7 separate regions of the Homo sapiens genome follow, and regions 2, 3, 4, 5, 6 and 7 are each linked to region 1. The links come from fine-mapping of genetic effects on plasma protein levels. A gene starts in region 1. Each other region holds a variant in brackets. All regions are shown on one strand. Distances are from middle to middle.

The links. PIP is the posterior inclusion probability: the model's chance that the variant is causal. Protein levels are from antibody-based Olink assays in UK Biobank. Linkage for the fine-mapping came from a reference panel and not from the study's own genotypes, which makes the PIPs less certain.
Region 2: its variant is fine-mapped to the plasma level of the GASK1A protein (UK Biobank, PIP above 0.99).
Region 3: its variant is fine-mapped to the plasma level of the GASK1A protein (UK Biobank, PIP above 0.99).
Region 4: its variant is fine-mapped to the plasma level of the GASK1A protein (UK Biobank, PIP above 0.99).
Region 5: its variant is fine-mapped to the plasma level of the GASK1A protein (UK Biobank, PIP above 0.99).
Region 6: its variant is fine-mapped to the plasma level of the GASK1A protein (UK Biobank, PIP above 0.99).
Region 7: its variant is fine-mapped to the plasma level of the GASK1A protein (UK Biobank, PIP 0.97). The variant lies in the coding sequence of GASK1A. If it changes the protein, the assay may bind it differently, which can mimic a change of level.

What each region holds. Positions count from the first base shown.
Region 1 is chr3:42,977,725-42,981,789 of GRCh38, forward strand. It overlaps GASK1A (golgi associated kinase 1A), which reads left to right and starts at 1,587. Exons shown (of 5, transcript NM_001129908.3): 1 at 1,587-1,921. The coding sequence starts at 1,919.
Region 2 is chr3:43,083,155-43,087,219 of GRCh38, forward strand. All of the region lies in intron 1 of POMGNT2 (protein O-linked mannose N-acetylglucosaminyltransferase 2 (beta 1,4-)), which reads right to left. POMGNT2-AS1 (POMGNT2 antisense RNA 1) reads left to right here and starts at 2,880. Exons shown (of 2, transcript XR_007095896.1): 1 at 2,880-4,065. The variant C/T (reference allele first, on the strand shown) is at 1,759.
Region 3 is chr3:43,076,688-43,080,752 of GRCh38, forward strand. POMGNT2 (protein O-linked mannose N-acetylglucosaminyltransferase 2 (beta 1,4-)) reads right to left here. Exons shown (of 2, transcript NM_032806.6): 2 at 2,547-4,065. The coding sequence ends at 3,002. Among named protein-coding and RNA genes, the nearest start is that of POMGNT2-AS1, 7.3 kb to the right of the region's middle. RefSeq lists enhancers at 2,940-3,441, 3,442-3,941. The variant C/G (reference allele first, on the strand shown) is at 2,333.
Region 4 is chr3:43,028,002-43,032,066 of GRCh38, forward strand. The region is part of intron 1 of GASK1A (golgi associated kinase 1A); the gene reads left to right. Among named protein-coding and RNA genes, the nearest start is that of GASK1A, 51 kb to the left of the region's middle. The variant C/T (reference allele first, on the strand shown) is at 3,492.
Region 5 is chr3:43,059,077-43,063,141 of GRCh38, forward strand. No RefSeq gene overlaps it. Among named protein-coding and RNA genes, the nearest start is that of POMGNT2-AS1, 25 kb to the right of the region's middle. RefSeq lists an enhancer at 3,499-4,018. The variant G/A (reference allele first, on the strand shown) is at 1,848.
Region 6 is chr3:43,008,837-43,012,901 of GRCh38, forward strand. All of the region lies in intron 1 of GASK1A (golgi associated kinase 1A), which reads left to right. Among named protein-coding and RNA genes, the nearest start is that of GASK1A, 32 kb to the left of the region's middle. The variant A/G (reference allele first, on the strand shown) is at 2,362.
Region 7 is chr3:43,053,873-43,057,937 of GRCh38, forward strand. It overlaps GASK1A (golgi associated kinase 1A), which reads left to right. Exons shown (of 5, transcript NM_001129908.3): 4 at 1,560-1,663; 5 at 2,304-3,843. The coding sequence ends at 2,514. Among named protein-coding and RNA genes, the nearest start is that of POMGNT2-AS1, 30 kb to the right of the region's middle. The variant G/A (reference allele first, on the strand shown) is at 2,401.

The DNA of each region.
Region 1 (4,065 bases):
ACTGGGCACTCTCTTCCTGTCTAAGTTAGTGATTTGAGACCATCATTAAAAATACATAAAATTGGAATAGAATAGAAAATGTCAGAGTGCATCACATGAAGTAATGTTTTATAAAACAATCTTTTAGTTACATTTATACATATATGTTTAATATATATCTTGTGTGGGGTCACAGTCAGAAAATGAGACTCAAAAGATCACAGCGTCTCCCTAAACATCTAAATAAAACCCTGAATGGTTTGTACTGTCCTCCACCCTCTTCCCTCATTTCCCAACCAGGGCTCAAACTCTCTGTCCTTTCAGTAGTCCATATGCACAGACAAGCTGCAGTTTGCAGTGCTACATCCTGCCTCCTGTTCCTGCCATATCAAGTCTTCCTCTTTGTTTCATGTTCTGGCAAATAGACTTGGATTTGCTAAACTGTTTACTGGCGATCTGGTCTCAGGAAAGTTACTTCACCTCCCTAATCCTGACTTTCCTAATTTGCAAAAGTTTTCCTTTTAGGATCGTTTGTGGTTATTAAATGAAATAATGTACAGAAAGCATCTGGAATGTTAAGGACCGAATACTTTCCCTTCATCTGTTCCTCCTGCCCATACACACATACACAATTTAAGGGGACTCTCTGGATCTTTGCTTCCCTTTAGAAGCACTGCCATCAGTGATAACCTCAGATCATTCTGGGGCAGGAGACTGCTGGGAAGATGCCTGTCTTCATCTAGCTAATGATGCTTCCTGTTAGTTTCAGTACTGGAGGCTAATTTTTCAGCCTGGCCCCCAAATTCTCTCAGAGCACCCTACTGCTGACTCTGCCTCGCCTCCATCCATTGTCTACAGGCTCTTAATAATCCTGGGGTCCAAACATTGGGCCACTGGGGGACACAAGTCATAAAGACGTCTGGGGACTGGTCGATGGTCATCCAGCTGTTAATAGTGGGGCTAGCCCTGATTTTGGGACTACAGAACCCCTAAGCCCAGGACATTCCCCAACGGGGAACGGATAGACTCTCAGGTCTTGCTCTGACTGTGCCTTTGTTGGCAGTAGGTGACTCAGGGGACACAAAGGCACTGTCTGTGCATCCAAAGCAGAGAGGTATCAGCCACTTACTTCAGTGACTTTAACAGTGATTAGTTCTCAAGGACAAAAACTCTTCATTGTTAATTAGCTTAGTGGTCAACGGATTTTCCTTCCAAATCCTCTTGGGGACTGAACCCAAACAAGGCGAAGAAGTGACAGTAAAAAAAGACTTGTCCTTCTGACAAGCGACAGTAAAGAAAAAGACTTGTCCTGCTTGGCAGGAGAGGGTGGCAGTTTGGGCAACACTCAGCCATATTGCTGAGTTGCAGCGAACTCACCAAGCACCCTCACACCTTAGAGGCGTCCCTCACCGTCCAGCCTTGGTGCATCACCCGTCAGGCGGGCAGTCAGGGCGTAGACCTTTCCTTCCTAGCACCTGGGCCCCTACTCCAGAAGACCAGAAGACTGCGGCTGGCCGAGCCCCCGGCAGGGCTTTTATTGTGAAGGGAGCTTCCCCCTCCCGCGCTTTCAGGGGAATGGGGAAGCTGGGCCGGGACGCGCGGCAGGGACTTTGCAAACTCTGCAAAAGTCCCGAGTAGACCGCAGAGGCTCGCGGCCGCGGGTAGGCTCCCTCAGATCCCCGTAGATCTCAGTAGATCCGGCGTGTATTCCCCACCCGCGGAGTATCCCGGTGTGCAGCGATCTCCCGAGAGTTGGCGCAGGGCCACTTGGCTGCAGAGAACGTGTGCACCTTCAGTCCGGGAAACCCGCCCCAGCCGAGTAGCCGCGCATCCTGGGAAGCCTGGCGAGCCACGGCGCCGGGGGCGGCCAAGGGGAGGCGGGATGAGTCTGCGAGCCGGCTGAGCGCGCCGAGGAGCCGGCCGGGGCACCGCCGGGGACATGGTAGGACTCGCGGGAAGGAACGCGCGAGCGGAGGGTGGGGCGATCACCAGGACAGGTGGCTGCAGTCAACGCGCAGCGGCCCAGGGCGCGCGCAGCCTGCGCGGCCTCCCGAGGCCGGAGTTGTTCCCCGAAAGTTGCATGGGGCGGCGGCGGCTTTCATTTCTGCACCAGAGCTGGGGGCGATCGGCTTTCCTGCCGCTCTTAGTGGGGCGGACCGTAATAAGGGGGCTTTTATTACTAATCTGCACTCCTTGACCTAACCGTAACCCACTCGCAACTCTGCAATCTTCATGCAATCCACAAGGCAGGGAGAGGGGAGCGTTCCCTGGGGAACCCACGGCAGCCTCTGATGAGATGCTTTTGAAGTCATTTTAATACTCTCCAAAGTTCATGTGAATTTTATACTATCTTCTCTAATTTAGCTATGTATTGATATTAAAAATAATGTCCTAACGTTTATTAACATTTAATAACTAAATTAACATTGAGTTAAATTGGCTCTAGTAAGGTTCCAATCCGCCTTCCTCTACCTCCCCGACAGGAGGACTGTTGGGCAGATGTGGAAGCACTGGTGGGTCTGGGATGTCACGATGAAACCAGGATCTTGTGGACGTGGCCCTTCCATTGATCAACTTCACAGACACTAACAGGCAGAAAAGAAAAACCCATCGAGAATGTGGCCCAGGCGGCTTAGCTAAAGGACACATGCAACCCCAGGAAAGGGGCGTCCCTCAGGCCCGGCCGCTGGTTAGTTGCTCTGCTTCTCCCGCAGCAGAAAACCCCTGCAACCCCAACTGGGCTCCTGCAGTTCACTGGGCTCCCCTGGCTGCTTCCGTGCCTGCTCGCCTCTTCCCTTTCCTTCCAAGCTCACAGAAGGCAGATCGGAACCCACTGGAGATGCTTTGTGGGGAGTTTTGCTGGGCCTGGGGTTTAGAAGGCTGTCTAGAGACTGCGCTGTAGGATGGAGGGTCTCTGTGAGAACAGCTCCTTTGTGTGCAGGGGGGCCTGGCAGGTGGCTGGAACAGAGGTGGAGGGCTGGTCATAAGGAGCTGGGGGCTCAGGGAAGGGTACCTTTGAGGCTAGGGGTGTGTGTATGTTTCACCCCTCCTAACACCTATCCAGCTTCAGGTTTTTTCTCAAAGCTGCTAAGAGAAGGAAATAGTGGAATCTTAAGCTTCAAAAGGGGGAATGATTGGGGGTACAGGATGTGAAACGAAAAGTGTGGAGATATCCTATTACAAATTCCCTGTTTAGGAGCAAGAGTGTTACCAGAACTCAGGCCACAGCCATCCACTCCGAGGGGCATTAGCATGCTGGAGTCTCCTGGCTTTAAAGGCAAATGTAGCAGAGGCTCTGTGGTCTGCGGCTGAAGCAGAGTGCCTGGAGGAGAGATGGTACCTGCCTTCTGCTCAGGCTGCCTAGGGGAACATTGGTGTGTTTGCCCCACTGCCAGCGTAAGCTTCCCGTTCTGTGAGTCATTGCAGCTTCCCGGTTTCACGTCCCTGGCTCTGGGTTCTGGTATTGTGTTAGGAAGAGGACTTGTGTCAACATTTCACTGTCTCAGGGTTCACTTGCAGAGAGAGGGGCCTGATGGTCATCCTCTGGCAGTGAAATGGCCTTGGAGATCTGAAGGCTGTCCTTTGCTTCTCCATCTGAATGAAGGGTCTTGAGGTCCAGAGACCACAGGGCAGCCTGGCACTGGCTAGAAGCAGCATGGGAGGAGACAGGGGGCTAGGAATCCTTTGAGGACCTTAGTTTCCTCTTCTGTTAGATGAGAGATTGGACTAGATGTTATTCAAGGTGCCATTTAGCTCCAAAAATGGGTGATATGTGAATAATTTTGAGATTGGATCTCAATTCTAGTGTTGAGCTGTGCTTAGCATGAACAACTAAAAAGGTGTGGGGAAGAAGTGGTTCTCAGCCCTGACTCAGGCTGCCCCCATCCCCCAGCCCAAATCCAGATGAGACCCAGACCAAGGGATGTTTTCAGGCTCTGCAAGTGAGCCCAGTGTGCTGCCAGGGCTGAGAACCACAGGGCAAGAAGGCTGAGAGAACGGGAGAAAGCTGGGGCTCAAAGCTGCACTTCCCAAGATATCCCTATGTCCACAGAGTGGTCATTCCTTGAGATAGTCCTAAAATAGTTT
Region 2 (4,065 bases), 110 kb after region 1:
TGAAAATTACCGTGACCAAGTATCATACATTCTAGCTTTTTTTTTCTAGTACACTGTATTCTAAGTTCATTAACAACAACAGAAACAAAACAAAACAAAAAACCTGCCCATAATCATCTTAATTAACTTTCCGACCTACTCACCAGGTTGGCAACTTACTGTTTAAAAAATACTGGTCTACTCCAGATGTTCTCAAGCCTGGCTGATTACTGGAATCCTCAGGAGTAGTTGCTAAATAAAAATCCATATTCCCAGGCACCAGTCCTGGAGGTTCTGATTCAGTAGGTCTGGAGTATGGCTCAGGCATCTGCATTATTTGTTTCTTTTATTTCCTGCCTTCTTGTGAATTACTTGAATTCCACTTTGATTTATCAGTAGTGTTTTTGAGTATATCCCTTGATATAGATTTTCTAGTGGTTGCTCTAGGCATCATACTATAATCTGTAACTTATCACAGTCTACTGGTATTGACATTTTACGTTTCGAATAAGTGTAGAAACTTTACCTCCACCTAGGTTCCTTTATAATTGTCTTATGTGTTTCCTCTACATATAATGAGACCCACATCAGACAGTAATTTTGGCTTCAACTGTCAAGTATGATTTCCTCAAGAGGGAAAGGATCATCTATTATATTCACCCATATTTTTACTCTTTATGTTCGTCCCTCATTCCTGATGTTCCAGGTTTCCTTCCATTCCTATATCCCTTCTTTGAAGAACTTCTGTTAGTTCACTATTCTTTTAAGGTCAACTTCCTGGCAACAAATTCTCTTAGTTTTCCTTCATGTCGAAATGTCTGATTTTAGCTTCATTCCTAAAGGATATTTTCACTGCGTATAGAATTTGGGGTACAGATTTTCCTTCTTTCAGTATGTGAAAAATGATGCTGTGACACCTCCTCTGGCCTCTGTGACTGCTGATGAGGAACTGCTACCCTTCGAATTGTTTTTCCCTGGAGGGAATGCATTGTCTCCTGCTGCTCTTAAGATTTTGTTGAGTTTTCAAAAGTTTGACTCTGAGGTGCCTTGGTGTGGGTTTCTTTGGGTTTATCCTCTTTGGGGTTTGCTCAGATTCTTGAATCTGTAGGCTCATGCCTTCCCCCAAATGTGGGAAATAGCCATTATTTCCTTGAAAACTTTTTCAGCCCCACACTGCTCTCCTAGGACTCCAATTACACCAATGCTAGATTAAAAAAAAAAAATTGTATTGGCCAGGGGCGGTGGTTCACACCTGTAATCCCAGCACTTTGGGAGGCCAAGGCGGGTGGATCACGAGGTCAGGAGTTCGAGACCACCCTGGCTAACATGGTGAAACCCCATGTCTACTAAAAATACAAAAAATTAGCCAGGCATGGTGGCGGGCGCCTGTAGTCCCAGCTACTCGGGAGACTGAGGCAGGAGAATGGCATGAACCCAGGAGGTGGAGCTTGCAGTGAGCCGAGATCGCACCACTGCACTCCAGCCTGGGTGACAGACAGAGCGAGACTCCGTCTCAAAAAAAAAAAAAAAAATTGTACTGTCCCACAGATCTCTGAAGCTCTGTTAATTTTTTTCCGGTATTTTTTCTCCCTGTTGTTCAGACTGGATGATTTCTATCATTCTGGCTTCATGTTCGCTGATTCTTTCCTGTGTCCTTTTTATTCCTGATTGAGCCCATTCAGTAATTTTAAAATTCTGCTTACTCTATTTTTCATATCTAAAATTTCCATTTAGTTTTTATAACTTCTTTTTTTTTGCTAAAACTTATCCTGGACATTT[C/T]GGTCATAATGTTATGATACTCTGGATCTTACTTAAATCTTCTATTTTAGTAGCTTCTGTTAAAACTGTACTGGTGGGGGAAAGGAGAGCATTGACTCTTTACTGTTGGGCGGGGGTGGGCATCCAGGCTCCCTACTCAGCCTCCACCAATACCATCGTGGCTGGGAGGGGGAGGGATACTCAGCACAGAGTGTGTGTCAGGGTGTCAAAACCCAGGCTCTGCAGTTGGCCTCCAATGACACCCTGGGGTGTGGATGGAAGTCTAGGCCCCAAGAGGACTATGGTAGTGAAGGACGTATGTTACTACTAGGCGGTCGTGAAAGTCTAGGCTTCCCATCAAGTGGGGAGGGTGTGGGGCAGCTGGTTACCCCTAGGCAAAGGTGGAAGTCTAGGCTATCTGATATGGTTTGGCTCTGTGTCCCCATCCAAATCTCATCTTGTAGCTCCCATAATTCCCACATGTTGTGGGAAGGACCTGGTGTGAGATGACTGCATCTTGGGTTGGGGGGGGTTCTTTCCTGTGCTGTTCTCGTGATAGTGAATGGGTCTCACTAGATCTGATAGTTTTAAAAACAGGAGTTTCTTTGCACAAGCTCTCTCTTTGCCTGCTGCCATTCACGTAAGATGTGCCTTGTTCCTTCTTGCCCTCTCCCATGATTGTGAGGCCTCCCCAGCCATGTGGAACTGTAAGTCCAATAAACCTCTTTCTTTTGTGAATTGCCCAGTCTTGGGTATGTCTTTATCGGCATGAAAACGGACTAATACGCTATCCATCTGGCCTTTACTAAAACTGAGGGGTGGAGGAGGAGGAAATTTTCCCTGGTGTTTTGCAGGAATGGGGTATTTACAGCAAAAAAAAAAAAGTTTTGCTAAACTGTTCCTTCTTCCAGTCCTTTGACAAAAGAGACCAAGCTTCCTTGGGGCTTTGTTTTGTTCTGTGCTCACTGGCATTCCTGGATTGTGGGCTTCTCTAGCACCACGGTAGAATATATAGGAGGCAAGAAGAAAACCCAGAGAACTCACCATTATGTTGTTCTGTGAGTTCCAGGATCCCCAGCTGGTTCACTCTTTTCTCCACCTTTCAGTCTTCCAATGTTTTATATATAATGTCCAGTATTTTTAGCTATATTAGTAAAAGGGATAGGGATAAATTTGTCTACTCTATTTTGACCAGAACCTGAGGTATCCTTGGCATCCTGCTTTTTTTTAACCAAGCTCCCAGGTGATTCTGGGGTACAAACAGGTTTGAGGAAAACCAAGTAGCTCTTAACCAAAGAAGCAGGCCATGAATCACATTACCACTTATCAGTTTAAAAGCTTGGAAATGTTTTCTTATTTCTTCTGTATATAAATTAGAGTAGGCTCAATGTCATCCTTATAATCACATCACCATCACTCAGTTGCTTTCTGATACATCTTGAGTCAGGAAGATGAGGATCACCATTTAGCTTGCACAAGAACCCACAACCCCACTGCCTAAGCTGTGGGCAGCAGTGAGCAGCCTACATGTTAGTTATGCCTTATTAATAGCAACAGCTAGTATGAGTTACTGTTCTGCTTTACTTCACTGCAAAATATCTTTTGGGTTTCAACAACACCTGTATGCCCATAGGAGTATGCCATGCATGTGACTCTTCCCTATCACGTACTATGGGGGAAAGACAAAGGGCCAAACGTTGCAGCAGGAACCCTGCAGAACTTCAGATCAGGTCTATCACTTTGCTCTGTGACACTGGACATGCTGCTATGCCTCTCTGGCTCCTGGGTGCCTGGATGATCAGATAAAGCATCACGCTGACCTGGGCTTCTCACCTGTTTAGCAATAAACTATGAAGCAGGATGCCAGCAATAAACATAAGCCCAGCTAAGCCAGGATACAAAGGAGTGGCTTCATTTTTTGTTCTCAGAAGGGAGAAAGGAGAGGTGACTCCCACTCAGGCAATCATGTCTACCCAGAACCTTAGAAGATGACCTTATTTGGAAAAAGGCTCTTTGCACAGACAATTAGATAAGAATCTTGAAATGAGATCATACTGGATGAGGATGGGTCATAAATCCAATGTGACTACCCTTAAAAGAGACAGAAAAGGACACACGGAGAAACAGAAGGCCATGTGAAGATGAAGACGAGACTGGAGTGATGTAGTTATAAGCCAAAGAGCCAGCCCGGATGACCAAAACCATTAGAAGCAAAATAGAAGAAAGGAAGGATTCTCCCCTAGAGCCTTCAGAGGGAGCATGGCCCTGCTGACACCTCAATCTTAGACTTCTGGCTTCTAGAACTGGGAGAGAATAAATTTCTTTCAT
Region 3 (4,065 bases), 99 kb after region 1:
CAGATTTATAATAAACAGGATAGAGAAATGTAAATGCCCCTAATGTTACGTAAGTTCTTATCACTCCTGTGTGTGTTTGTGTATGTATGTATATATAGGAGTCATAAGAGATTATTTATACATTCATCCCCCTATGAATATGAGGATGATGGAGATGGTCTCTATCGTGTAGGGATGTGTGTGTTACATGGATGTATGTATTTGTCAAAACTCACGTAACTCTACACTGACGATCTGAGTATTTCACCATAAACACCAATAAATGGTTTTTTTTAAAAAAAGCAGCAGCAGCAAAAGAAAAAATGCTGCTACTATTCAGTGCTATCAAGGGGTGGCCTGGGCTGCTGGGCATGGATCCAGCTCCTCCATGGAGCCTGGGGGAAGGAGGCTAATTTCCTAGTGATTGTACACAACGTTCTCTAGCTAACCAAAGTCTTGTTTCCAAAGAATAGTCATCAGTGACATGGCAGAGTGTTCATGTCTTAATGTTAAAGAGGAAAAAAAAGAGGGGGGCAAAATTTCACATAAAGCGGATTCCCAATTTGTAAAAAAGTTTGGACAAAGGCAGAGATACACATATTCATTGAGGCAAGGAACCATTCATTGAGCTTTCGCTTGGCTGTGACCCACATGACACAAACCCTCACTGAGCTCCCAGCCTGTGAGCAAGGTCTTGCGGAGAGGTAAGTGCTTCCTGGGAGACAGTGGCGGGGCCAGCAGAGTTAAGGCTTTTTGGGTGTGACAAACTGGGTTTTCAGGAGAGCTGGCCCTTGGGCTAAGTGGTCTTCCTTTTAAATCAAGGTGTGCCATACAGAAAGCACAGAGGTGAGTGAGTGCACTAATGTACCGTGTAAGCAGGATGATGGCTTTCCTCAATGTCCACGGTGCAACCACCATCCAAGACCACAATGTTGCCAACCCACAACCCCCTTGTGTCCATCCCAGTCTTTACCTCCTTTCCCGGTAACCACCATTCTGACTTCCATCGCCATAAGTTTGTATTCCTGTTCTAGGACTTCATACAAATGGAACCATACAGTAAGTATTTTGGGTCTGCCTTCTTTTACTCAATGTTGTCTGAGATTCACTTCATTCTTTTTAAAATTGTTGTGTCCATTGTATGAATATACCTGTTGATGGACACTTGAATTGTTTATGGTGTTTGGCCATTAAGAGTAGAACCATGGACATTTTAAGACATGTCTTTTTGCTGACATAAGCACTCATTTCTCTTGGGTATATATCTCAAGAAGTGGAATTGCTGAGAGATAGGACAACTAAGTGCTCAGCTTTAGTAAAAACTGCCAAATGGTTTTCCAAGTGGTTGTACCATTTCACTCCCCCAGCCCCAGCAGTGTATGAGATCTCTGGCTTTGAGCTGAGTCTTGATGTGTGGATTCTCATGGCAGTTTATGGTGGCAGCAGATGGAAGCTACAGTTAGGGAGAAAGATATTCTGGATGAAAGGAATGTCATAAAGATCCATGGCGACCATGAAAATGCACCATTCAGATCTCCTGCAGCAGAGAACAAGGGATGGCTCAGCTGCCATGCTGAATCCACCAAGGTACTGATGCTGAGGCCACACTTCCCACTGCGGCTCCCAGGTGACGACTAGCATCGGCGGGTGGGAGGGAATACTTATCTAATGGACACCTTTGGCTCAAAACTCCCCGATCAGCCTGCTGAGAGGTTCTCAGCACTGAGCTACAGCCTGAGGCTCTACCTCCTCTCCCCAGCTTCTCTCCCTCTCCCCCTTACAGGAGTCAGACCTGCAGCAGGTCTCCCCAACAATAAAAGGCCAAAACTCCTCTTTCTTCAGGACAGATTTTATCTTGGGCTAACTTTCTAGCTCTGCTCCCATGGAAGCCAGACAAGCCAGTTAGCTGAATGTCAGGTACAGTATTAGGCCAAACTGCCCATGGGAGTTTTTGACCTCTGATTGATAAGCTACACCTGGGCTGGAAGGACAAAGAATAAGCTATACCATCTGGTAAGAAACCATGGCCTTAGGCTTCCCTAAGTGCAGAAACTCATAACTGGGCATGTCCCTTGAGGGACCCTGGGAACTCTGATTGTGGGTTGTTGAAAACACATTGACTCCTATGGGGCATGGGCTTCTGAATCAAGGTGGCCCTCAGGAGTACTGATGTAAGGACTGCTCCTGTGGAAGGGAACTGCTGACATGGCCCTGCTGGCATGCTGAGCATCTCTCTCCATCCTTCTAAGAAACTCTGATGCCAGGTATGATCTGTCCAGGTCTTGCGAGTCTTAATGTCTAGTTGAGCCCAAAAAAAAACCCATGGTGGATACAGCTCTTCCTCCCCTCAGCC[C/G]TCTCCTACCTACTTCTAGGCTTTTATCCCATGTAGGTGGAACTGTGATATTAGTCCAGCTAGTCAAGATGAAATCCAACCAGCTTGCTCACTTTGCCATCCTGGGCGCTTTCCCATTGCCACGTCTCCCTAGCTAACAATCAAGATTAAAGGGCACCTGGGTTTTGACGACCAGCTCCCCTTCCTCCCATCCAATAAGAAGACTTGACCAAGATGCTTAGAATCATTTAATGAATGTTCCAAACACACCCTTCACTGGGCTACAGGTAAATTTCACTGGGATGGAAGCAGATGAACCACCCAATCAAACAGTACATGATTACTCGGTTTCCAGAAATCTGGATACCAGAAAAACTCAGTAGGAAACATCAGGATCACCTAGCCAGAGGTTCCTTGTGATTCTTTGCTTCCTCCTCTCCTCTTCCTCCTCCCTGCTAAGGAACTTCTCCAGGGGTACAAATGTTCAGGATGGGAGAAGGGGAAGTCAGGTCCCTTATCTCTAGGGCAAAGAGGAGTGCTGTGACACCACACCCCAGAGACAACAAGATGATGTGGAGGCACAGGCCTGCTCAATAAATAGTTCCCAGAAGTCTCCACAGTGGGATTAATGGGCCCAGGGACGCTGAACTGCAGGAGCCACCTTCCCGAGGCCAGGCTGTGGCCTGCTCGCTACGTGTTGCACACCAGCACATCTGCAAAGGGTCCCAGGAGGATCTTGTTGAAGATGCAGCGGACCCACACCAGGTAGGTGGTGAAGGGCTTGATGTTCTCAGTGAAGGTGTGGTTCTGCAGAGCCAGGATGTAAGGCACGTAGGTGTTCTCCCCCTGCTCCTGCAGCCACACCTCGTACTTCACCTCCCTCACCTTCAGGTATTTAAGGTTCCATGGGATCTGCCAGGAGACAGTGAGGCGGGCCTCGGAGGCGCCATGCACTGACGCCTGGCACCGTGCCTCCCGCACCTTGCCTGGATATAGGCCGACTGTCCACTTCTGCTTCCGTGGTCCTGGCCGGCCCTTCACCACGCGCCGTATGGTTTGAATGAGGGACGGGATGTCCACCTTGGTGTCCTGGTAGATTCGGAAGAGCCACTCGGGGTTCCGGCAACAGAGATGCCGTGGGACCTCACGGCTTTGCAGGATACGGGCTTGCTCAGCCCGGTCCAGATGGGTGATGCCCCCCTGATCCCAGGGCCGCTCAGGGTGTGTGACTGTGTTCTCTGGCATCATGTTCCGCCAGGCTACATACTGGAGGTCCATGCCAGGCAGCATGGCCAGCGTCTTATAGGGAGTGTAGTGGTCGGGATTGACAGCATATGGGAAGAGCTCTACCACAGTTGCCCCACGGGGCAGGAAGAGGGTGGTGACCAGCTGGGCCCCATGCATGCTGACCAGCATGGAGGCATTGCTGACCAGCCGCACGACATCAGCAAAGGTGTGGTCCTCCAGGGACACTGTCACTGTCTTCATCTGGAACTCCTGGGCCAGTGCCAGCAGCAGCTCTGCCTCATTCAGAATGAGTCTGTTCTGGGTTCGGCTAAAGACCAGAATGTACTCCTCGCCTAGGGGGACTCCTGTGTGGCTCACGTTCAGCTTTTCTGTCATGAACCGTGCAAACTGCCGGATCTCATTGCCTGAGACGAGGATGTTGGCCTTCGGGCCCTGGGGCTGCACAAAGCCATACTGGTACCAGGTAGTGATCTTGGAGAGGCCCACAAAAGCATGGGAGAAGCACA
Region 4 (4,065 bases), 50 kb after region 1:
CAGGGGTTCCTGGGTCATAGGTAGATTCAAAGATTCTCTGATTGGTAATTGATTGAAAGAGTTAAGTTATTGTCTAAAGACTTAGAATCAATAGAAAGGAATGTCTGGGTTAAGATAAGGGCTTGTGGAGACCAAGGCTTTATCATGCAGTTGGAGCCTCTAGGTAGCTGGCTTGAGGAAATAGACTGTAAATGTTTCTTATCAGACATAAAGAGGCTGTTCTAACAGTCTTAAGGTCTGTGTTGATGTCAATGCTGGTCAGCTGGGCCTAAATTTCAAAAGGGAGGACGGTATAATGAGGCATGTCTGGCTTCCTCTTCCCATCATGGCCTGAACCAGTTTTTCAGGTTAACTTTGGAAGGCCCTTGGCCAAAAGGAGGGGTCCATTCAGATGGTCAGGGGGCTTAGAATTTTATTTTGAATTTACAATACAGAAAATATACCATAAAATATTACAACAGAACTAAGACTAAATATGTATGGCATATCAAGTAATGTAAATTAGCTAAACCCACCTAATGAAAGAACACAGAGCTCTCTTGGTGGAAGTGTATGTGTGTGTGGGTGGGGGTGGCAAGTGCAGAGCACACAGAGTCATCTCCTAACCCCCCACCCCATGGGAGAACATGAAGGAATCCCCAGAGCAAGTTTAAGAACCATTGTTCTGTCCCATCTCTGGTAAGCAGGCGAGAGATTCCAGATGCAGTCCAGGTTTGGGGAGCACAGGTTGTCTAGAGGACCACACAACTTACAAGGAAAATATTCTCTAGGCTTTGTCTCCCTGCCCTGTGGCCCTGGAGGCCCTGGCTGAAGTGAGGGGGACATCAGAAGCATGACTCACCTGATTTCCCCACTGTTTATTTAGCTTGCTGGTCCCCGCCCCACCCCTTCTGCTTGCTGGTCACCACCCCACCCCTTCTTAAGCAGGGTGTCCAAGCAGGGCTTTGTGGCCCTGGGACATATAGGCTCACCTGCTGGCTTCACAGAAGCATTAATGCATGGGGTGTCAGGTGAGGGGGGAAGATATTTTAGCACGTGGGTGCCAGAGGCCAGAGGGGATTTTCTCTACTGTCTCCTCCCCTCCAGGTATGGGGGAGGGAAGGTGAGCTTAAGTGGTCCCTCCAGCAGCAGCTTCAGGTGGATGGAAAGTATCCATTGGCCCTGAGTCGCCTTGTATTGGCATGTCCCACTGAGTCTTGGGGGATCAGCTCAGAGCTGCAAGGGAGGCTTTGGTTATCATGGTCTCACTGTTCAGGCCAAGGGGAGTGATTGTGTCTCCCGGTGGTGACTGGGCAGGGGCAGAAAACCCTCATTTCAACCCTCTTCTTTGAAAGCCACCCTCCAGGGCCTACACTGACTTACTGGGCAATGGTGGTGTGTGCGTCCTCTTGTGCAGCTGTGTTCTGCTACAGGTGCTTGACATGGACAGGAGGAGGAGGTTCAGGGGAGCCCACAGCTGAGTCAGTCCACCTCCACTGTCCACCAAGAGCTAGAATCACTGGGTATTGGGGGAAGTGAGGCCTCAAAGGCTATTTCATCCAACCCAACCCCTTGTAGATGAGGGAGCTGGTCCAGAGAGTGGGATCCACACACTGGCTTCCTGCAGCTGAGGTGTTTGGCAAAAGTGGGGCCAAGAGACATCAGTGCACCACTCATGGAGGTGCTAAGAGGGAGATGCTGGCCTCATGTCCAGGAGGCAGAAGGGGTTAGGACAGGGAGAGAACCAATGTAGAGGAACTGGAGGTAGGAGGGAGCCATGGGCACTTTTTACAGCTGGGCTGTAACTGAGATTTCCCATTTCCACTTCCTTTTGATTATTTTCTGATGTTTACGGTGCTGAGAAATGTGTTCGGTTCCTGCAGAAACTGCCACTGACTTAGAAGGGACTGAAAACACAGACAAATTAGGAAATTCATGAGGGGCGGCATTCCTCCAGGCCATGCCGTTGGAAGGAAGGGGAAGGTCAAATGGGTACTGAAGGAGGAAAGACTCTTTTGTGATTTTATTTTTTTGAGATGGAGTTTTGCTGCTGTCACCCAGGCTGGAGTGCAATGGTGCAATTTTGGCTCACTGCAACCTCCACCTCCCGGGTTCAAGCGGTTCTCCTGCCAGGTTCAAGTGATTCTCCCAAGTAGCTAGGATTACACGCATGCGCCACCACGCCCAGCTACTTTTTTGTATTTTTAGTAGAGACAAAGTTTCGCCATGTTGGCCAGGTTCGTCTCAAACTCCTGACCTCAAGTGATCCACCCACCTTGGCCTCCCAAAGTGCTGGGATTACAGGCATGAGCGACCGCGCCCAGCCAGGAAATGCTCTTTTAATTGTAGAGGAAAGGGAACTCAGAGATGACCTGGATTAGGCCTTTTTGGCTGCATGTAGCAGGAGTACCCACGACCCACAGCTCAAGTGTAGAGTGAGAATGGGTTTCGTGGATGCTGCGCAGTCCCGAAGAGCCCCAGGCGGTGGCTACTGCTGTTCCTGGGCCAGGCTCAGAATTGGAACTGCAGTGCAGGATGCTGGGCAAGGCCTTTCCTCCTGTTTTCATCTCTGGTTTGTCTATGCAACGGTTTCCTTCTCTCTCCCTGCAGACTGGCTCTCAACAGAGTATGGCCCACTGCTGTCATCTTTGGCTGGGTGGCAATGGGCCCCTGCTCTCTATTTCATGAGCAGGACAAGTCAGCCTTGCTGATTTATCACAAGCCCATGCTCCCAGGGCTGGGGTTGGGGGTGAGAATCTGTTGGCCCAGCATGGGTCAGGATCCAGGATGGCCCCATCAGCTTAGGTCATGGGTCGGGGTCCCTGGATAGATATGGCTCGGGTGGATTGTGGGGGATAGAGGTGGTACTTTTGAGAGAAAGCAGGGGGCTACTGAGGATGGACTTCACCTACATGTCCACTGCAGATCCCGGATAATCCCCTTTTGACACCCACAGGGGAGCTTCTCAGAAGAGCAAGCACATGCGGGGAAAAAAGTGGGATCTGGTTTGTTTTGTGGGTGTTGTTTCTTTGACACCTTTAAAATTCTGTTTACCCGTGTGCCTTTTCTGTGCATTCCAGCAAATTGCCTCACACTGCATATAGTATCAAAAATCTCTAAGGAATATCTGGTGGATTTAGTAAGTAAACTTAATTTGGGGAGTTTTTTTGTGATTTGGACTAGATTGTCCATTCATTTTGTCAGTCACGTATCTGTTGATTCCCATTATGTACCAGGGCTCTGCCTGTAGGTCTGTCACATAAAGGCTCACAGGTACAGAGACTCCCAACTGCAGGCTTGCACTGCTCCAGACACTGCGTTCCTTCCCTTTTGTGGCTCATGATGCCCTAGAGCAGTGGCTCTCAAGCTTAAGCCCACATCAGAATTACCCAGAGTACTTCTTAAAACACAGGCTGCCCAGCCCCTGTTTCTGATTCCGGAATTCTGGTGTGGGGCCCTGAGAATTTGCATTTCTGACAAGTCCCCAGGTGATACTGATACTGCTGGTCCCA[C/T]GTGAACTTCAGTCAACCAAGAGTTGACTGAAGTGTGCATAGAATATATTTAACTGAATAACTAAGACCTGAACGTAATCCAAGGACTGCATGTTGAGAAATCACTGCCCCTAGGGTGTGTCCTTGCTAACATGTGCAGAGCTGTTGCTGCCACATCTGTGTGCAACCGGCAGGGACGGCAAGAGAGAAAGGCCAGGGTGGCTAACTTCCTTTTAAGCATGTGGGGCTGGCAAAAGTGGTTGGCTCTCATGACATAGTCAGGGACTTGGTCACATGGTCACACCCTGTTGCTAAGGAGGCTGGCAAAGTCATCTCTAACTGGGTGGCCATGTGCTCTGGCAAAGGGTAAGGGCATGTGTGTGGGGACATCAAGAGATCTGCCAGAATGGGCCCATGGGATCACATGGAGACAAAAAGAGAAGGTCAGCTCTTGGTGATGGGGACAGACGTGAGAAAAGCCCCTTATGTTGCATGGTGACAGTGTTGTAATGGCAGTTTATTCAAAGGGAGAATAAGACAGAAGAGCATGGGTCTGCAGGCCTCAGCAGAGGCTGCCCTAGAAGGAAAAGCAAGC
Region 5 (4,065 bases), 81 kb after region 1:
ACATCTTATTCTGGACTTTAATGGGAACACCTCTGTGGTTTCTATTATGTTTTGTCAGGTTTAAAGAAATCATTTCTGATAAATATCTTTCATTAAGTTAAGGAAGTTTCTTTTTATTCTTAGCTTACTAAAACCATTTTTCAAAAATCAAGAATGGGGATTGAATTTTATTAAATGCTCTTTTCAATATCTATTGAGCATATAGTTTTTCTCCTTTATTTTCTAATGCTGAATAATCTTTACATTCTCAGAAAAAACCTATTAGGCTGAGGTATGTTAGTATTTTGGGAACTGCAGAATTTAACTTGCCAATATTTTACTTAGAATCTTTGCATATACATTCATAAGGTTTTCCTTTTTGGGCACTCCATGGCTGTCTTACTATTAAATTTAAACATACCTCATAAAATAAATTCAGAATTTTATTTTATCTTTTTAATGCTTTGTAAGAGTTTAAATAAGAACCATTTATTCCTCAAAAGTTTTATAGCACTCTCCCATAAAACCATCTGGGCCCTGTGCCTTTTGCTAGATCTTTTACAACCTAATGTAGGAGATAGGTAACAGGGGCCTGCAATAAACCAACATGCCTGGCATATTCAGTGGGCGTGGAAATGTAGAAGTGTCCTGGGCAAGACTCAGGCCCTTGGAAAAGGGAGTTTGGATTTAGAGATTTCAGGCATTTCTCTTAAGGTCACCAATGTTTATTTGACTTTGACTTTTTGTCTTTTCTCCTCTCTTCTTCCTGTGTTCTCAGTTCTTTCCAAGGATACCCTTATCAAGTGATGCTGTTCCTCTAGGCCTCAGCCAGTTTCTGTTTAACAGTCTCTGCTTTGCCTTCTGCCTGGTAGACCTACACTCAGCCAGAGGTGGGAGTGAGACACTTGTCATCCTAGAAAATGGCAAGAAGAAAGGAATACAAAGAAACATTTCATTGCAAAACATAATGTGGAGCTCTCACATTAGGATGAGGCTCATTCTACTTTGTGACTTAACCAGCCGCTTTGAAATAAAACAGATCTAATCCTGTCTCACCACCGAGAGACTGACATGCAAGTGGACAATGCCCAAACTACATATAATAATAAAACTCTATCCACCACCTCTGTAGCAACCAGCTCAGAGAACCAACCACAATGTCTGTAGCATCTGCTCAGTAGGGTGAAGACCTAGTCAGTGACTGCCAGCTTCCTTATTTTTGTCCCTACTTCCAACTCAGGATCAATCAGAGAAAGCCAAATATGCTCCCCTAACCAATCAGTTAGGATGCCCCACCTCTAGTTTGCCCATCTCCAGTGTCTCTCATGCCAGCAGCCTCCAATCAGGGTGCACCTGGAGCCTTCCCTTTCTTTCTCACTATAAAGCTTTCCCAGTCCCTGCCTGTCTTGGAGTCCCTGCCAAATGCAAGTGATGGTGCTGACCCCCTTGCCGTAGCAAGCCTCTGTCTGTTCTCCCTTGGGTGGTCTTTGTTGATTTCCATACTGCCTGGCTGTAAGAATTAAACAAAGTTAACTAGTAATCCAGGTGAAGGCACTGGCCCGGCAGCTGGAAGGGTAGGCAAACTGAGCCACATTCTGAGAGCAGGTTTCCTTTACACTGAAATGGGGCAGAGGTGGCCGCCTAAGAAAGGAGGGGAAATCTGCCTGGCAGGGTTGCCTGGTTTTGTGGTGTGTGTGTGTGTGTGTGTGTGTGTGTGTGTGTGTGTGTGTATGTAGAGTTTCTCTTTGAAAAGACCAAGCCAGACTCTTCCTGTCAGTGAGCAAGGCCCCAGCTTGCACCAAGCCCTTTTGTGTGCTGATGTGAACAGGTCTGCTCAGCATAGACAGTGGGGGCACATGGGCAGATAC[G/A]GAGTGGCCCCTCTCAGCCTGCCCAGTGCACAGCAGCCACTTGTAGCACTGTGGCATAGGACCCAGCTCTCCCTCCTTAGCTTATCTGGGAAGGACACCATTTCCAGGCACTCCCATCAACACTGACCTCTTCCTACCTGGGGCGGGGAGAAGGGCAGACTCCCTAGGATAGGTGGTTTACATGGATCAAAGCATTTAACCTCACAGCAACAACATGGGGAGGTGTGATTGTTACTCTCTCCATTTTACAGATGAGGCACAGAGGGGTTAAATAACGTACCTAAGGTCACCCAGCTTGTAGGTAGAAGGGTGGGACTTCAAACCCATCAGGAACTGTGCTAGCAAGTCTCGCTTCCAAGACCACCGCTTTTCCCACCACACTCCCCAGCCCAGCCACCCTGACAGTTCCTCTTCTGCTAATCCCTTTGGATTCAGAAGGATTAGCAGGAGAAGAACTTTCTGTTAAAGATGTGGCAGGGCTGGTTCTCTAGTCCAGGGAGCCGCAAACTGCAACTCCTGGCCAAGCACATTCACATGCATTTGGCTCTTGGCTTGTTAAAGTCTGCCTAATCTATTAGCTGTGTCTTTCCTGCAAACTGGAAACTTCATCCACTTTTATCCTTTTCAAGAAAGCCTCTTTGCCTCAGTGCTTGCTGTTCACCCAGCCATTCCCTCTGGAATGAGAACCATGTGCCAAGTGAAGCAAACAGCTGGGAATCAGTATGTTCCCACTAAGCGTAGAAGAGTCTGTAGGGTTGGAGCTGCCATGGGTCTGCAGTGGGTGGGGTGCCGTGAGGGTTCTGCTCCGATTCAGACAGATGAGCCTCAGAGGCTCTGCTGAGGCAATCACAATTGCCAGCCTCCGTGCTGCCAGACAGGCCTCACCCCAGGTCCAACCTGCTCCTCCTGCATCCCCAGCTGAATGGGCTGCTCCAAGAAAAATGATGGTTTCCAAGCTAGAGGAGCTGAAGATAGTAACACAGGTTCGCAACCTTCTAGATGCGATACCAGCAATTCCCCAGAGCATGAAAATCAAAAGCTTTTTTGTATGTTTGGTGCTAAAACTCATGTCCCACTCAGTGTGAATATTTATACAACTTACTGCAGAAATAGTGATGTGTTGGGTTATTGGGTGTAACCTCGGACTCTGTTGAGGGCACTGCATAATGCACGGCATGTGAACCATATTACCTTTCTAAATCTGAGAGATTCAGAATTCTGAATCACATCTGGCCCCCAGGGTTTGAGTATGGGATTCTGGACAGACCTGTAATAACTCATGCTAAGGGCTTTACACATCTTATCTCATGAATGACTAACAACAACCCCAATTTGATTATGGTTACCCTACAGATAAGGAACAAATGACAGAGGTAGCGGGGAGGGAAAAAAGAGAGGTGGCTTGCCTGAGGCCACACAGATGGGAGCAGCAAATTTTTACCCGTGATGCTGGACAGATGCTTCAGGGATCCTGAGATCTTTGACTTCAGAAGTTTCCAAGGTGGAGGCCCTGGGTGTGGTGCATCTTGGCGATGTGGCCACAGCAGCATCTGAAGGCTCTGTGGTCCTGAGGCCAGAGCCCTGTTCAGTGCAGCCCTTCCTAAACTTATTTTGTCAAAGAGCCCTTCCTTTGGTTTTTTTGTGGCCTTTGTGTTGCTGTTATCTTTGTTTTACAGATGAGGCACAGAGGCGTTAAGTAACGTCTGTCAGCATTCCTCAAGATGCACTTTGAGTCATCCTGACTTGGCTGAAACCCCTTTGTTCTGCAGACAAGGATCCTGAAGTCCAGAAAGGCCTGGCCAAGGATGCAGGCGATGGCTCTCCCCTGGAGGGGTGAATGCGATGCTCCTCCTCCCCTAGCCACGGCCCCCACCCTGAGTGGAATGTCAGATGTGGGTTCCCTGAGTTGGGTTGGGAGCCTGGAGATTGGAAGGAAGCCAAGCAGCTCCTTGGCCCGTTCATCCCCCATGAGGCTGGAGGGATGTGAGGAGCCAGCCCACGTGCCTCAGTGGTCTGAGGTTTAACTGACTTCTGCCATACTGTAGGCCCGTGCTGGGCAGACTATTATCAACTGAGTGGAAGTAGGAAGCATGAGTGCTTATCCTCCTCTGTCTGCACCCCCAGGCACTCTGTGTTTCAAAGGCACCAGAGAGGTTGTGGCTGATCCAGAGAGTGAGTGCTCCGATGGACGAGAGTCGCGGTTGGAAGAATGGGCAGA
Region 6 (4,065 bases), 31 kb after region 1:
CGCTTTCCTCTCAGTTATGGTTTGCCAGTGTTCAGAATGCTGTGACTGTAACTGTTACCAGCCCATCCACAGATGGAGAGAGTGCGGCATGGGGCAGTAACTTAAAGGAGGTGCTGGAGTTCCCAAGTACCTTGGAGATTTAATAATCATGAGATTTAATGATAATGCTAAGTAATAACTATAAAAATGTATGCAAGGCTCTGTTCTCAGCACTTTATATACATTAAAATATGTTGAATCCTCACAGCAACTCTTTGAGGGAGGAACCATTTTCATACTCATTTTTCAGATGCAGAAATTGATGTGAAGATATATGCTTATTAGGGCAAAGCTGGGGGGTTGGACCTAGAGAGTCCAGCTCCTGTGTATCCTTCAGCGCATCCTTCTAGATGTTGCCTTTCTGAAGTGAGTGTAAGTATTTGTTGAAAGATAACACAACTCATCATCTCCCATGTCTCAGCTGGTATCAGGAACCCCAGCCAATGTAATGAAGAGACGGATCCAGGTATTTCTCAGGTCTTTAAAATCCTTCTGCTAGCACTGCTTCCCCCAGGTTATCTGGGCGCATTGAAAATGCTTCTGGATAAACCCCTGATGGCCTGAGCTAATTCTTTCCCCCATGTGCCCTGAAGTCCCCAGGGCCAGAACTGGCTCCTGTGTGCTGGGAAGGGCTTGGTCTCTGCAGGCTGGAGGCCAGAGTTGGAATCTCAGCTCTTCTACTTAGATGGTGTGTCACCTTGAGCAAATTTTGAAGTCTCTTTTTCGAGTTCCTCAGCCATAAAATGGTATGATATTTCCTTCCTACCTGTTAGAGTCATTGTGAGAATATCTGGAGGCAACATCCTTCTAGCCATAACAGTGAAAAACATGTAACAAACTCATGGTGTCATCAGATGTTGGTGGAGACCTCAGGTGGTGGCACCCAGAACTGCTGTCCAGCATTCCATGCTTCACCAGCCCTGTCCCACAAGTTTGGAAAGATAAGTGGCCTGAACGTAGGCAAGGCTAGATTTGCCAGAATTGGCATGAGGGAAATTATTATATCATTACCTTTTCACTTGAGACAGTGAGTTGCTGGGGGGCAGGGGCCAAGCCTTCTTCGCACTGGTGTCCTTATTTCTTGGTCCAGTGCTTGGCATTAGGGGAGGTCAGAATAGAAGGATAAAATTGTAATGCAGCACAATTTTTCTGGGGAGCAACCTCACCCCTACACTGTTCCTTTGGAGGAAGCTGCCTCCTGCCCCAGGGTGCTCTGGATTCCCACACTGGTTCCCTGAGGGTCTCCAAAGTACGTGCCTAACATCATATGCCTTTCCCAGTATCCTTCACTCCCTGTTGTCTACCAGTCACATGTTGGGTTCCAGGCCGTTATATATAGCAACTCAGTACCTACAATAACAGAAACCACTCTGGTGAAGGAGGGAGTCTGAAAAGGTGAACTCGTACTCAGATATTACCCAGCCAGAGCCTTCTTCCTGCTAGGCCATACTCTTCAGTAGAACCCTAATGCTTTCAGGGCTTCTCAAGAAAGCCTAGTTCTTGAGGCTTTCTCAAATCCCCGAATTTGAGAAACACCATTATAGCATTTTATATTCTCCCATGAAATACAGTAGAGTGGGCTGCAAGAGTTAAATTTTCAATTTCTATCACTGTCCTTGAAAAATAATTTTTACCTTGGCTGAGGCCTTTGCTGAAACGATTTTTTGAATTGCTTTTCGTATTTCATGAGGGTGGAGAATTCATTTGGATTATAGATTTCTGCCATCTCTAAGTTTGACATTCCTTTCTTTCTTGCTTTAAAAGCTAATATTTTCTAGGTCTTGTCTCCCTGTGTACCACTTCCTCCCCACACCCATCCCAACTGAGAACCATCATTTTCTAAGGCTTCTTTTGGTTTTCATTCCTTCCCCAGCACTAGCTATTGCCATTTGTTCTCCAAGGAAGTTTCCATCACATAATAAGATTACAATATCCCTGATGTTATGCTATGGAAGCTAAGCAGCAGAACCTGGGCAGACAGCCATGGACACATGGATGGCTCCTCCTACCATATTTGCTTGAAGTAAATGAGATTCAGATCTGAGCCTCAGAGGAATTTCAAATTGCACCCTGCCATGGACCTTTAGCCTCTTACCTTCCCCAACTCCCCCCTCTCCACCCACCAACAAATCCATTAAGGTAAAATATCTATAGTGTTTTTAACTGTTCAAAATAGTTTTCTTCAAATGTGCCAAGAGGGCATTTGCTTAGGCAGATTAAGAAATGGGCCAGGCATGGTGACTCACGCCTGTAATCCCAACACTTTGGGAGGCCGAGGTGGGCAGATCACGAGGTCAGGAGATCAAGATCATCCTGGCCAAC[A/G]TGGTGAAACCCTGTCTCTACTAAAAATATAAAAATTAGCTGGGTGTGGTGGCGTGCGCCTGTAGTCCCAGCTACTTGAGAGGCTGAGGCAGGAGAATCACTTGAACCTGGAGGGCAGAGGTTGCAGTGAGCCGAGGTCGCACCACTGCACTCCAGCCTGGCGACAGAGTGAGACTCCATCTCAAAAAAAAAAAAAAAAAAAATGGTTAGGAGATCACAAGAGATTTTTATTGCAAATAGGAACCTTTTTCTGTATGTAAGAACCCACTGTGTGGGCTGTCATTTACAAGGCAGGGCTGGCTTCTAGGATTTAGCACACACTGAATTGCAGCAAGTCAAGGCTGTGTGAAGCCATGGGAAATGGCTGTGTGAAGTCACAGAAAGGGACAATGTGAAGTCACAGGAAGAAGCAGAGTGAAGTCACAGGAAGGAGCAGTGTGAAACAATAGGAAGGGGCTGGAAGATGTCATAAGAAGAAATTATGTGAAGTCACAGGAAGGGGCTGTGTGGAGCCAGAGAAAGGGGCTACGTGACATCACAGGAAGGAACTGTGTGAAGCCAAGGGAAGGGGCTGTGTGAAGTCACAGGAGGAGGCTGTGTGAAGCCACAGGGTCAGTATGAAGCCACAGGAAGAGGCAGTGTGACGTTAGGAAGGGGCTGTGTGAAGCCAAGGAAGGGGCTGTGTGAAGTCATAGGAAGGGGTAGTGTGAAGCCAGATAAAAGGGCAGTGTGAAGTCACAGGAAGCGGCAGTGTGAAGCCAAAGGAAGGAGCAGTGTGAAGCCAAATAAAGGGGCTGTGTGAAGTAACAGGGACAGTGTGAAGCCAAAGGAAGGGGCAATGTGAGGCCAAAGGAAGGGACAGTGTTGAGCCATAGGCAGGGGCTGTGTGAAGCCACAGGAAGGGGAATGGGAAGTCACAGGAAGGAGCAGTGGGAAGTCACAAAAAGGGACTGTGGAAAGTCACAGGAAGGGGCAGAGGGAAGTCACAGGAAGAGGCTGTGGGAAGCCATAGAAAGGGGCTGTTTGAAGCCACTGGAAGGGGCTTCTGAGGTCACAGGAAGGGGCAGTGTGAGGTCACAGGAAGGGGCTGTGTGAAGCCACTGGAAGTAGCTGTGTGAAGCCACTGGAAGGGGCAGTGTGAAGCCACTGAATGGGACAGTGTGAAGCCACAGGAAGGGGCTGTGTGATGTCACAAGTAGGGGCAGGGTGAACTTACAGGAAGTGGCTCTGTTAAGCCACAGGAAGGGGCAGTGTGAAGCCACAGGAAGGCACAGTGTGAAGTCACATGAAAGGGGCTGTGTGAAGTCACAGGAAGGGAAGTGGAAAGTCACATGAAGGGGCTATGTGAAGTCACAGGGAAGGGCAGTGTGGAGCCACAGGCAGTGTGAGGCCACAGGAAGGAGCTGTGTGAAGTCACAGGAAGGGAAGTGGAAAGTCACATGAAGGGGATATGTGAAGTCACAGGGAAGGGCAGTGTGGAGCCACAGGCAGTGTGAGGCCACAGGAAGGAGCTGTGTGAAGTCACAGGAAGGGAAGTGGAAAGTCACATGAAGGGGCTATGTGAAGTCACAGGGAAGGGCAGTGTGGAGCCACAGGCAGTGTGAGGCCACAGGAAGGAGCTGTGTGTAGCCACAGGAAGGGGCAGTGTGAAGTCACAGGAAGGGGCAATGGGGTCACAGGAAGGGGCTATGTGAAGTCAGAGAA
Region 7 (4,065 bases), 76 kb after region 1:
GGAGCCTTGTTTTCACTGTCTCCACTGCCCCTAAGAGACTCCAGGGAACAACTAGGGCTCCTGGAAGTAGAGTTTGAGAATGGTGTGTCTAGTCAACATCCTCGTTGTGCCAGTAAATGAGGAATTGCAGTCTGGAGGGAAAGGAATCTTCAAGGCCATACGCTAGCAGCATTAGGGCATGAACCCAAGACTGCAGTGGCTCACAGGCTGGTGCTGCTCCTGTCAAAACTAGAGTCCAGGGTGGGAAGCAATGTGCCGAGGCCATTGGAGAGGGCAGAATAGCCACTTCTTCTGCATAAGAAGCAAGGTGCTTCCCCCGGGGAAGGGCTTCTCTATCTTCTCCTGCAGTGAGGCATAGTGTCCTCACAGCCTCCCTTTGCTCTTAGAGGGTAGCTGTCAGCATGGTGTCCAGGGATGGGCTTCAGGGAGGCCGCATCACCCGAAGCCCAGGATTGCTTAGTGGTGGTGCTGGGAATTCTCCTCCCCTACCCCCAGAGCCATCTCTCCTTTTCCCTGGTCAAAGGTAAATATCCATGGGAGAGACAAAGTTTTAATAGCCATTGTTTACCCCTGGTGAGCAGGCATTTCACAGATCTTTTAGGACAGCAGTTTCCAGAGGGAAGAGTCACCTGGCTTTGAGCAAAAGGTGATCCTGACATGTGGAGTGGGGTGAGAAAGGAGAAGAGGCAGAGAGAAGGGAAGCTGGAGTCCTGGAAACAGAAGTTCATAGCTTAAGCCTAGGCCACTGGAGAGGATTGTGGGAAATGCCCATGGACTTTTGGAGGCTATTTGGGAAAGGAGTGCATGCATGGGAGTGGGGACCAGAAGAGATGGCCTCCCATTCGCAACCACACCATATTCTTTAAGGTACTAAAGAATTTTCTGGTGCTGATTTTGGTTTTGAAAAGGTTTAGGAGCTGCTAAACTCTTCTGTAGAATCAGATTATGGTCAGTGCTTTTTGAGGATAAAGGATATGTCTGTGATCTCAGTGATGCTCAGGGGGATGCCCAGGTGCACAGGCACAGGTGGCACAAAGGGGTGACTGAGTGTGTGTACACATGTGAGCAGCACATGTGCGATGCCCCTCACAGCCGGTGGCCCCGAGGAGCAGGCTACCTTGGCAACTGCTGATTCCCACCCTTGCTCCTCACCCCTTCAGCCACCAAAATAGGATCAGTCCTTTGGCCTTGCGATTTAGCAGATGGTGCTATGGCTTAGCCCCATGGGTCCGGGTTTGAAACAGCCCAGCTACTTACTAGCTGTGTGATTTTGTGCAAATTGCTTAACTTAAAGAAGGTGCCACCATTTCTGTAAAATAGGGCTAACACTAGTGCCTGCTTCCTAAGGTTACTGGGAGAATTAATTGACAGGATGTCTGGAAGCACTTAGCACAGTGCCCAGCATAGAGTAAGCACTCAGCGGTGAGGACTGTTTGTTAGGATGGACTGTGGGACTGACAGCTCAGGGCTGTCAGCCCCTTAATCTTGACCAAGTCCATAGGTGCCAGCCGTAGCTGCACCCTTACCCACCTCTGTCTCTGTCCACCCTCTTCCCTGAGGTCCGGAGCAGCGATCCATCTCACCTGGTCTACATCGATAACGCTGGCAACCTTCAGCACCCTGAGGACAAGCTGAACTTTCGGCTGCTGGAGGGCATAGATGGGTGAGGGTCAAAAGGGTTGGGTGGAAGTTCATGGGACTGAGACCTGATGGCCTTGCTGCAAACCTTGGGACCTTCAACTGTGGCCCTGAGAAGCCCACAGTCCATCAGACAGAAGTTATTGGATCAGAACTTTAGGCGGTGGTGGGGAGCCCTGGGAAAGCTGAGAGGGGATACAGTTGGCAGGGCCTACCCCAATATCCAGAGGGCCTCGTGCCTGCAGAATACTAGCTGTATTGCTGGGGTGTGGGAAGGCTAGTCCTTCCCTTGTTCTGGGTGAGAGAGCTAGGCCAGAGAGTCTACCCCTCCCAGCTCACTCTTGGCAGGCAGCTCTGCCTTCCCAGGATTCTTTCTGGCCCTGCATTTGCCAAGTGGAGCCTGGGATAGCGGAATTTATTCACCTGGCTTCTCTGTAGGATGGGACCCATCTGAAAGGTCTGTCCCCTGCCTTCACAGCAAAGCCAGGCAAAGGGTCCTCTGTTAGTGAGATAGCAGGTGCAGGTCTGGGGAGTTTGCCAGGTGACTTTACCAGAGTTCCTCAGCTATGCAAGCTCTGGCCATCTGGCATCACCTGTTACTGAAATTCTCTGAGATTACTGTTGCTTTTTCTTTCTGTTACGGGGCTCTGGGGCCTTTGCTCCAGGTTTCCTGAGTCTGCCGTGAAGGTTCTCGCATCAGGGTGTCTACAGAACATGCTGCTGAAGTCGCTGCAGATGGACCCAGTGTTCTGGGAAAGCCAA[G/A]GCGGAGCCCAGGGGCTGAAGCAGGTCCTCCAGACCCTGGAGCAGCGAGGACAGGTGCTGCTGGGACACATCCAAAAGCACAACCTCACACTCTTCAGGGACGAGGACCCATAAGCCGCACACAGCCCTGAGTCAATGAGCATCCATCCTGATGGCCACATTTTCTTGGGCTCACTCATCTTGAGGACAAATGGGAAAAGCCAGAAGCCAGAGGGGCACAAGGATGTCACGGGATATTTCACCTGCCTGGGATGGTGGAGGTAGTATGGGGTTTTCAATCTCAAAGCGTCCCTTTCTGCCTTCTCGGCTCTGGCTATTTATTCCCTTGCACCAACAAATACATTCGAAAATGTTCTGTGAGCTGCTCAAGAAACTGTAAAAATGTGTGATGCACGTGCATATGCAGAGTGGGAGAACTTTGTGTGTGTGTAGAGGTGTGTAGGTGTGGGTGGCATGTGTGCCCGCCTGCATGCAATACCTGAGACCAACCTAATAAAGGTACAATCTTCATAGAACTGCACTTGCAGCCTGGAGTTGCTCTGGCTGAAAGTAGACTCAGGCTTAAGAAATGAAACATAATGCGTTTGTCTTTATAGACTTTAAATTTTCAATTATTACTCAGTTATGTTTTTGGTTTAAAAAATTATAAAAGTCTAAAAGTAATACATGCTCAGTAAAAACAAGTCCATAAAAAATAGAAGCATATGACAAAAAGCATAAGTCCCACAAACTCCCTAGCGGTGTGTATGTGTGTGTGTGTTATTCATGGTCACACTACATGCAAATTAAAAAATGAAAGTGTGGTCATGCTTTGTCAACTCACTATATTTTTACTTTATTAACTATATTCTGTATCAGCCATCTGAATTGACCCAATCTTTATTGGTGACTGCATGAAATTCCAAGGCAGGGATGTGTCATATTTTCTTTAGCTGGTCCCATAATCATGAACATTTAAGTAGCTCCAATTTTTCATCAATTACAGACATTGCCGCCATGAACATGATTGCATGGCGTGCAAGTATTTCTGCGAGGTAGATTTCCGTACGGGATTTCTGGGGCAAAGGGTATGGGCATTCAGTATTCTGAGAGAAACTGCCAAATTGCTCTCTGAAATGGTGGTGTCAATTTACATTTCTCCCAAGAGGGTAGGAGACTGATTATTTTTCTACACCTTCACCAACACTTGGCATTCTCAGACTTTTGGGTTTTTTTTGGCCTATTTAGGAGGAAAACCGATTTTAAAAGCTGCATTTCCTTAATCATGAATGAAGTCATCTTTCCACTTATTTGCCAGACATTTGTATTTTCTTTTCTGCATTGTCTTTTTGTTTTAAGATGTTTGCCCTTTGCTTGTTAATTTGTTGGAAATCTTTGACTCTAATAAGTGTGATCAATCTTTTCTCTGCTGACTTGGTATAAATGTTTTCTTCCAGCCTCTAATTTGTCTCTTAACTTTGTTTATAGTCTTTTGCCAAGTGTAAAATGTTAATTTCCACGTAGTCAAATTTGTTTATCCTTCCCTTTAAGTCTTTTGAGTTTCATGCCTTCTTAGAAAGGCTGTCACCACTTCAAGATTATTGAAATAATCTGTGTTTTATTCTAGTATTATACAGTATTTCTTATATATTATATAGTATTTCTTATATATTTTCATATATTTCA